Homo sapiens: one gene and its partner. The protein of the gene in region 2 purifies or fractionates together with the protein of the main gene of each other region. This does not show direct contact. Each region holds a gene or a part of one and is shown on either strand. Other genes may lie near its edges.

What was found. The genes of interacting proteins can lie anywhere in the genome.
Region 1: the proteins of TXNRD2 (region 2) and AKR1B1 fractionate together in Homo sapiens (co-fractionation; one large-scale study listed by BioGRID). This does not show direct contact.

The regions. Positions count from the first base shown.
Region 1 is NC_000007.14:134,441,934-134,445,600, forward strand, and holds the end of AKR1B1 (aldo-keto reductase family 1 member B1), read right to left. Parts: intron 3,388-3,667; coding exon 3,305-3,387; intron 838-3,304; coding exon 795-837; 3' UTR 423-794; downstream 1-422. UniProt on the Homo sapiens protein: Catalyzes the NADPH-dependent reduction of a wide variety of carbonyl-containing compounds to their corresponding alcohols.
Region 2 is NC_000022.11:19,910,685-19,914,351, forward strand, and holds part of TXNRD2 (thioredoxin reductase 2, mitochondrial isoform 5 precursor), read right to left. Parts: intron 764-3,667; coding exon 693-763; intron 1-692. UniProt on the Homo sapiens protein: Involved in the control of reactive oxygen species levels and the regulation of mitochondrial redox homeostasis. Maintains thioredoxin in a reduced state. May play a role in redox-regulated cell signaling.

The sequences.
Region 1 (3,667 bases), on a different chromosome or scaffold from region 2:
TCGGCCTTCATACGTAGAAGGAGCAACCAAGGAATCTGTGGAATCGAACATGGGTTTACCCTAAAGCTGTGGCTCAGCCTTGGCTGCACCCTGGAATCACCTGGAGAGCCTGTACACTCCTGCTGTCCTGATCACAGCCCAATCAGATCAGCCTCCAGGGCGAGGTCCAGACATCACCAGCCTTAAAGCCCCCAAAGGTGACCTGGTGTGCAGCCAGGATGAGACCCACAACCCTAAAGCTAAATGGGTAAAGTACTGGGGTGAGGGGCCCCCAACTTGCAGTTGAGGACTTGTAGAAAAGTCAAGTCCTCACTCCTTTTGCATCACTGACTGGCCTGCCTTATGGGTATGTGGAGAGTGATGGTTGAAGTGAGATAGAAGGTTGCTATTGTTTTAAAAAACCAAAGCTCACAAAACCAAGCTCACAAAAGCACTTTTTATTTGAGGCAAAGAGAAGTCTTGCTGAAAGGATTCCAGTTCCAAGCAGTCAAAACTCAACCGTTAGTGGCACTATTTTGACCTGGTAGATTTTGCTTCTCTTTGGTCAGAAAAGGGTATTCAGGTTGTACTTTCCCCAGCAGGGTAGAAAGAAGGGCAAAGCAAACTGGAAGAGACTTCTACTCTACTGACAGGGCTCTTGAGATCCAACATCAAGCTAGACACGCCCTCGCTGGCCACTCTACAGGTTGCTGTCCCACTGCTGAGTGACACAGGCCATACTACATTTGCAAGGAAAAAAATGAGGCAAGAAACACAGGTATAGGTCACTTGGGGACGAGCAGGCAACCACAGCTTCAAAACTCTTCATGGAAGGGGTAATCCTTGTGGGAGGTACAGCTGTCAGGAGAAAGGAGAAAACAGTTGCTTTTTGAAGAGGTGATTTTGACTATACCCAACTCCCAACAGAGAAATGATGTGTCTCACTGAAGAAATAAAATAGAACCTCAGAGGCAACAAGCTAGTTCTGAGTGTGCAGATGATGGTTCTGCAGCTGGGGGAAGCAACTCACCCTCCAGACCCCTCTACCACTACTGTCATCAAGCAGCACATGTGTGAGGGACACCACCCTCCCCATGTGCCCAGCACTGTGCCTGGGCCGTGCAGGACGGCAACACGATTTCTGCCTTCCAGTAACTCAGTCTAGCTGGCAGGACCAGACAGTATTTTGTGGTCTTAAACATCTTGTGTAATAATATGAGAAGGCAGGCCAGACACAGTGGCTCACGCCTGTAATCCCAGGCTGAAGCGAGAGGATCACTTGAGGCTAGGGGTTTGCGACTAGCCTGGGCAACATAGCAAGATTTCCATCTTAATAAAAAAACTTTTTAAATTAACCAGGCATGGTGGTGCATGCCCATGGCCCCAGCTACTTGGGAGGCTGAGGTGGGAGGATCATTTGAGCCCAGGAGGTCAAGGCTGCAGTGAGCTGTGATCATGCCATTACATTCCAGCCTGGGTGACAGAGTAGGAGCCCATTTCAAAAAAAAAAAGGGATGTTAAAAGTCTGTATGTGACTGAATCTCAAAGGATAAGAGAAGCAACGGCAAGTGCTCTGAGGACAGAGGGAGCCTCCTTGTATCAGTGGGGGCTGAAGTGAGCCCAATCAACGGTCGGCGATTTTATATTGGAAACAGGGCAGGGAGCACAGGGCAGGGAGCACATGGCAGGGAGCACAGGTGCAGACGTGTTTGTCAAGGCTCACTCACTGTCCATCTAGTAGGGCCAATGGCTGTGCTAGGAACATAAAGGCAGGAACACTGGACAGATAGCTGGGCAGCTCACGCAAGGCCAGAGTTATGTAATCTGAGCTGGGTGCTTACAGTCTGTAACTCTTATTCAAAAGTTCTCCATGGTCTGCCTTTTTTGTATACCCACAGTGACACTGACATCAGCAGGTCAGGCTCAGTAAAGCATTATCTGCCAGAGGGGTGGTGTGTGTGTAGTTAGCGAAAACTCCCTAGGAGACCTGAGCATGTCAGGGCTAGCCTCTTCCTCCCACTCACCGCCACGCAACAGGATAATCGAACAGAAGTTTCTAGCACAATACTGGAGGGCAGAGGAGCCTAACTGTAAAGGGAGCAATGAGAAAACCACTGTGTTTCCTCAGCCCTGAAAGCTTCAATCCACTCTGTCTCAAGTGGGAGGGGAAAAGGAAGACGGATGAATGGGAGAGATTCTGAAAGGAGAACGAATGTAGCTTGGTGACTGATTCACTCCTCTCCTCCTTGTCCACTAGATCCAAAAATGATTTTAATGTCTAGGGCTAAGTAGCATTAACAGAGATGTCTGAAAGGGCACTGGCCTGGGGCTGCCTGTGACATGCTCTGTTTGCGGCCTATTTTGAGTGTGAGGCCACAGTGTGGCAGCAGCAGGCTTGCCAGGCACGCATATGCCTGAAGCAGGGCCAGAGTTATTGTCCAGGACGCAGACTGGGCAAACATCTGCCTGGGGCGGTGGCTGAAGCCACCAGCAGTGCAAACTCCGGGGAGGGAGATGGGACAGACGCTGGAAAGGGAAAGCTGGTAGCCCACCCCATCTTAGGGAATGTTCACATTTTGCTTAGAAGAGGAAGTACTAAAGGAGAGAGTGTGGAAACACAGAGCTCAGACAAGAATAAGGGTAGTGAGAGAGAAACAGAGTCTCAGTCTCCACTGCAAAATGAGAAGTTCCTTCTTGAAAGCAGAAAGTGAGTTACATGCGTCACCTAGTTATTGTAATGGTAGGAAAAGAGAAAACCCCACAGAAAACCTTCCTAGGCAGCTCCTTCCAAACTACCATGCAGAGGAAACAGAACCAGAGGATGTGTGGCTGGAGGAACTGAGGTGCCTGCTGCTCAGAGGGAGGGCCTGTTTTGGAGCCATGTGGCTTACCAGGTCAGAGCCGGGACTGTCTCAAACCTCAGCCCCAGGGGCTCCCGACCAAACCCCTTTCATTAGGGTCATTAAGACAAAAAGTCACAGGCAAATTCTTCCAGAGTTTGATCCAGGGTCACCTGGGATCACCTAGTTTCAGATGAACTGCTAGGATTTAAAAATTGAATGGAAAGCCAAAATATGTAGTTACTTCAGGCCAGGCCAACAATGCCCCAGGGCTGGAAGAAGATATCAAGAGCGGATCTCTTGGCATCTTGGCTCCATGCAGTTCAGCTGATGCAAGTCACGTGGCTGAGAAAGCAAGGTAATGTGCAAAGCAAGAACAGCTGTGACGAGAGCACATTGGCGCTGAGGCCTGCAGGGATCACTCTCTTGCTGTGCAGCATCTGAATATCTCCTGGGAACTGCTCCTCACACTGGGGCTCACTCACCTCAACAAGGCACAGACCCTCCAGTTCCTGTTGTAGCTGAGTAAGGTGGTCATATCCTGGCTGCTCAGTTCAAAGTCAAAGACCTAAAAAACAAACAAAAAAATCCAGTAAGCTCTGCAAATAAAAATAAAAGACAAAATACTGTGCAGGACCCAGATGTCTTCCATGGCTTTGAGCAGAGAGGAGCGATAAGATAAACTGAACTTAGGAAAAGCTGATATATTAGTATTCAGGAAATGTGCATGTTGGGCTAGATAATATATGGAACGATGGAAACAGTCCTTCCTTTCCAGAACCTCCCAGGGAAATGATACATTTTATTTCATTTCAAAAAACACTACTGAGCACTTCTATTGTGATAAG
Region 2 (3,667 bases):
CAGCCTCAACCTCCTGGGCTCAAGCAATCCTCCCACCTAAAGCCTCCCAAGTAGCTGGGACTACAGGTGCACAGTACTATGCTCGGTTAATATTTTCAGATTTTTGTAGGCTGGGTGTGGTGGCTCACGCTTGTAATCCCAGCACTTTAGGAGGACGAGGTGGGCGGATCACCTGAGGTCAGGAGTTCAAGACCAGCCTGACCAAGATGGTGAAACCCCATTTCTACTAAAAATACAAAAATTAGCCAGATGTGGTGGTGGGCGCCTGTAATTTCAGCTACTTTGGAGGCTGAAGCAGGAGAATCACTTGAACCTGGGAGGCAGGGATTGCAGTGAGCCAAGATTGGGCCATTGCAATTCAGTTTGGGGGACAGAGTGAGAATTCACCTAAAAAAAAAAGCCAAAAAAAAAACCAAAACAGATTTTTGTAGAGTAGAGGTCTCACTATATTGCCCAGGCTGATGCTGATCTCGAACTCCTGGCCTCAAGCAATCCTCCCGCTCAGTCTCCCAAAGTGCTAGGCTAACAAGCATGAGCCACCACACCTGGCCACAAATAACAGGCCTTTTTTCCTTCTTTTGGGTAAACCGGAAAGAAAGCCCCAGGAGCCCAGCACCAGCACAGGCTCTAAGGGTCCAGTGCTCACTCTGGTGAACAAAAAGAGGACCCCACCAAGCACGCGCAGGCCTTACGTTTTTCCAGGGGATTCCTTCAGCCAGAAGATGTCATCACTTGTGATTCCATATTCCAAGGCACCTTCGATCTGTCAAGACAGAAATGACCCCTTGGACAAGAGCTCCATTTGGCCTGTCCTAGGGCTTCCTTAAAGAGGATGCCAGCTTTGCAGAATCAAGCAGAGCTTTCCCAGGGCACACATGCACAGGGCTTCCCTGCTGCCAGTCCTTGTCTGCAGGCTGTGGCCTCTTTGGGGCTGCAGGTGGCCTGTCTGCATCTAAGCTGCTGCACTCCAGGTCCCGGTGCCCTCGCAGGGTACCTTTCCCCTCTGTTCCCCAGGACCCTCCCCTTGACCCTGGTTCAGAGCAGGATACAGGGCCTGAGGTGGGTACAGCAACTGCAGGGGCCATACAGGCAGACAGCTGGGACCCCTCAAGTCTGCCCGGGTTCTGGACAGACACATCAAACAGACAGGGGCATGCAGCCCCAGGGAGCAACACCTGGGTTCTGGGGGATCCAAACTCAGAGAGAGGAAGTGGGGAGAGAACAGGTCAGCAAATCAGGGCCAGCAGAGCTCAGGTGTGTCTGCGCGGCAGGGGTGGCCTACAAGGCCAGCCAGAGGAGAGGAGGCACAGGGGGTAAGTGCCACAGGCTGAGGTGGGCAGGGACTGAGGGGCAGCTCTGAGGGCACCTGGCTGAAGCCAGGACGGACTTCACACTCTCGAGGGCTGGCCCGGGTGGGCTCTGAGCCCAGAAATCATACAGGTCACCTGAAGAGGGGCGGCCAAGCAGGTGGGAGGCCCAGGGTGAACGTCCCCTTAGCGGCCATGAGAACAAGATGTGCTGGTGGAGGAAGCGGATCTCAAACAGTTTATGCTTCCAACTGGCAAAAAAAAATAAAGTCAGGAATTTCTCAGGTTTACTCAAGGAAAACCGAAAGGTCTGGCAATCAAAGGGACTAAAACGCAAGCAAGCCTTGGCAGACACCCTGGGAGGGCGTGGCAGGGAGAGCGAAGCAGCCCTGAGCTGCCTGCCTCCTAAGGACCAGGAGCGCCTGCTGGATCCCCTGTGAGCCCAAAGAGCCGTCAGCAGCTGCCCGTGAGGTGCAGAGCAGGGCCGGGCCAGGCCAGGGCCCCTGTGCAGTGCTCCCTGGTGCGGATGCACGTGCAGCTCTGCCTGGGGCCTCAGAGAAACCCAATGACCGCTGGGCTGCTGGAAGCTGGCTGTGGCCTTCTTTAAGCAGAACCACCATGAGCCCAGCTGCCAGGAGAGGGGATCACTGGGACCCTGTCTGCAGCAGCTGCCTTGAACAACTGCACAGTGTCATCCTACAAAGTCACGCAGCCCTGAGCCCCACCTCTGTGCATAAGCAACCTGCCCCCTCTAGAGGCTGCTGTGGCTGCCTGGCGGCCAGACAAGTCCCACGGCCTCTAAGGACTGGGGGTGCTTGTGCTCCTCGGGGCCGCTCCTTTCCCTGTTTCCACAGTAAGCACAGGACGAAGTGGAGGCTGGGGTCACATCCAAGAAGTGGCAGAACCTCCCCTTGCTCTGCCTCCACCGGACTGCCCCTGGGTCTAAGTCAGAGGTGGTGTGGCCTCCAGGCCGAGAGAGCCGTGGTCTTCAAGAGCTTGGCTGCAGCCTACTTAGAGGCTTGGAGCAGGCGGCACACGGTTCCCTGGGAGACCCGTGGGGACTGGTCTCAGCCAAACCTCTCTGCTCACCCCCAGCCCATTTGCTTTCCCTGCTGCAGCTGCCCCCCAACCCCTCACCCCGGGGCCCCTTCCTCAACTCTGCCCCCACAACCCACAAGACTGGGCCAGGAGTTATTCACCTCTCTGTTAAAAACAGCGATAAAACTGGCAAGAACTGGGAGATTCAGAATTATGGAAATTAACCACAGGCTTGCAGCAACACAGGGAACATTTAAAGTCAGGAAAAACAGCTGAAGCTGAGTGAGAATGGGAACTCCAGGGTGTTTTAACTCACTCTGGTCCCACTCCCACCTCAGCGGCAGCCCTGAACAGTGATGTGTCAGAGAGAGCAGAACTCAGCTGGGGTCTTTCAAAGCCCCCCCACAAAGAAGAGTCAGAGTCAGCAACTATAGGGTCATCTTCATCCAACTTCACCGGAGCTCAGCCAGGGCTAAAAGCCTTTCTCTGGGGGCATTTGTCTGAGGTTTTCTTCTCACAGCTGCCTGAGGGGATAGGTAACAGTTAGAGCCAACAACAGACTGCCCAAAAAGCTTCAAAGGAAAAGCCAAAGTATGAGATGTCTGCTGGAGCTTTGAAAGGTTCCAGCATATTCCTGGGAACCTAGGCCAGGCGCATGCACAGCACTGTGCACACATCAGGAAGGACCAACGAGGCCCTGAACCCTCACCTCCAGCTGACCTTGATCTCTGCAGAAGCAGGAAGTGAAGGCTAGGGCAGAGCTGTCTGCTGCCTGTTGAGTGTGGAAGGCATCCCCTCCAAACGCACACAGAGCCCTCAGCAAAGACCGGGAGAGTTCTTAGTTTAGGGAAATCTCCATGCAGTTCTTAGCTGACCACTAAGCTAACCAAGTAAAGACTTCAGTGGCCACATACATCAAAGAATAAGAGTCTACAAAGTCAGTTCCGAAAAGTCACCAAATAAGCAGCTGTAACAACAGAATCCTGGGGCAGAGGGAGAATCTGGTTTCCAAAGTTATCGCATTAAATTATTTGAAATGTTCAGCTTTCAATAAAAAAATTACAAGATACGTGAAGAAACAAGAAACCATGACCCTTACACCCCACTGGAAGGAATGTAAAACACAGTCATTGTGGAAAACAGTCTGAGGTTCCTTGAAACGTTCCTTGAAAGATTCAACATAAAGTTACCACATGACCCAGCAGTTCTGCTCCTAAGTGTAACCCAAGAGAAGTGAAAACTGAAGTCCACCAAAAAACTTCTTTGCAGATGTTCACAGCGGCACTATTCATAATAGCTAAAAAGTGGAAATAACACATGTG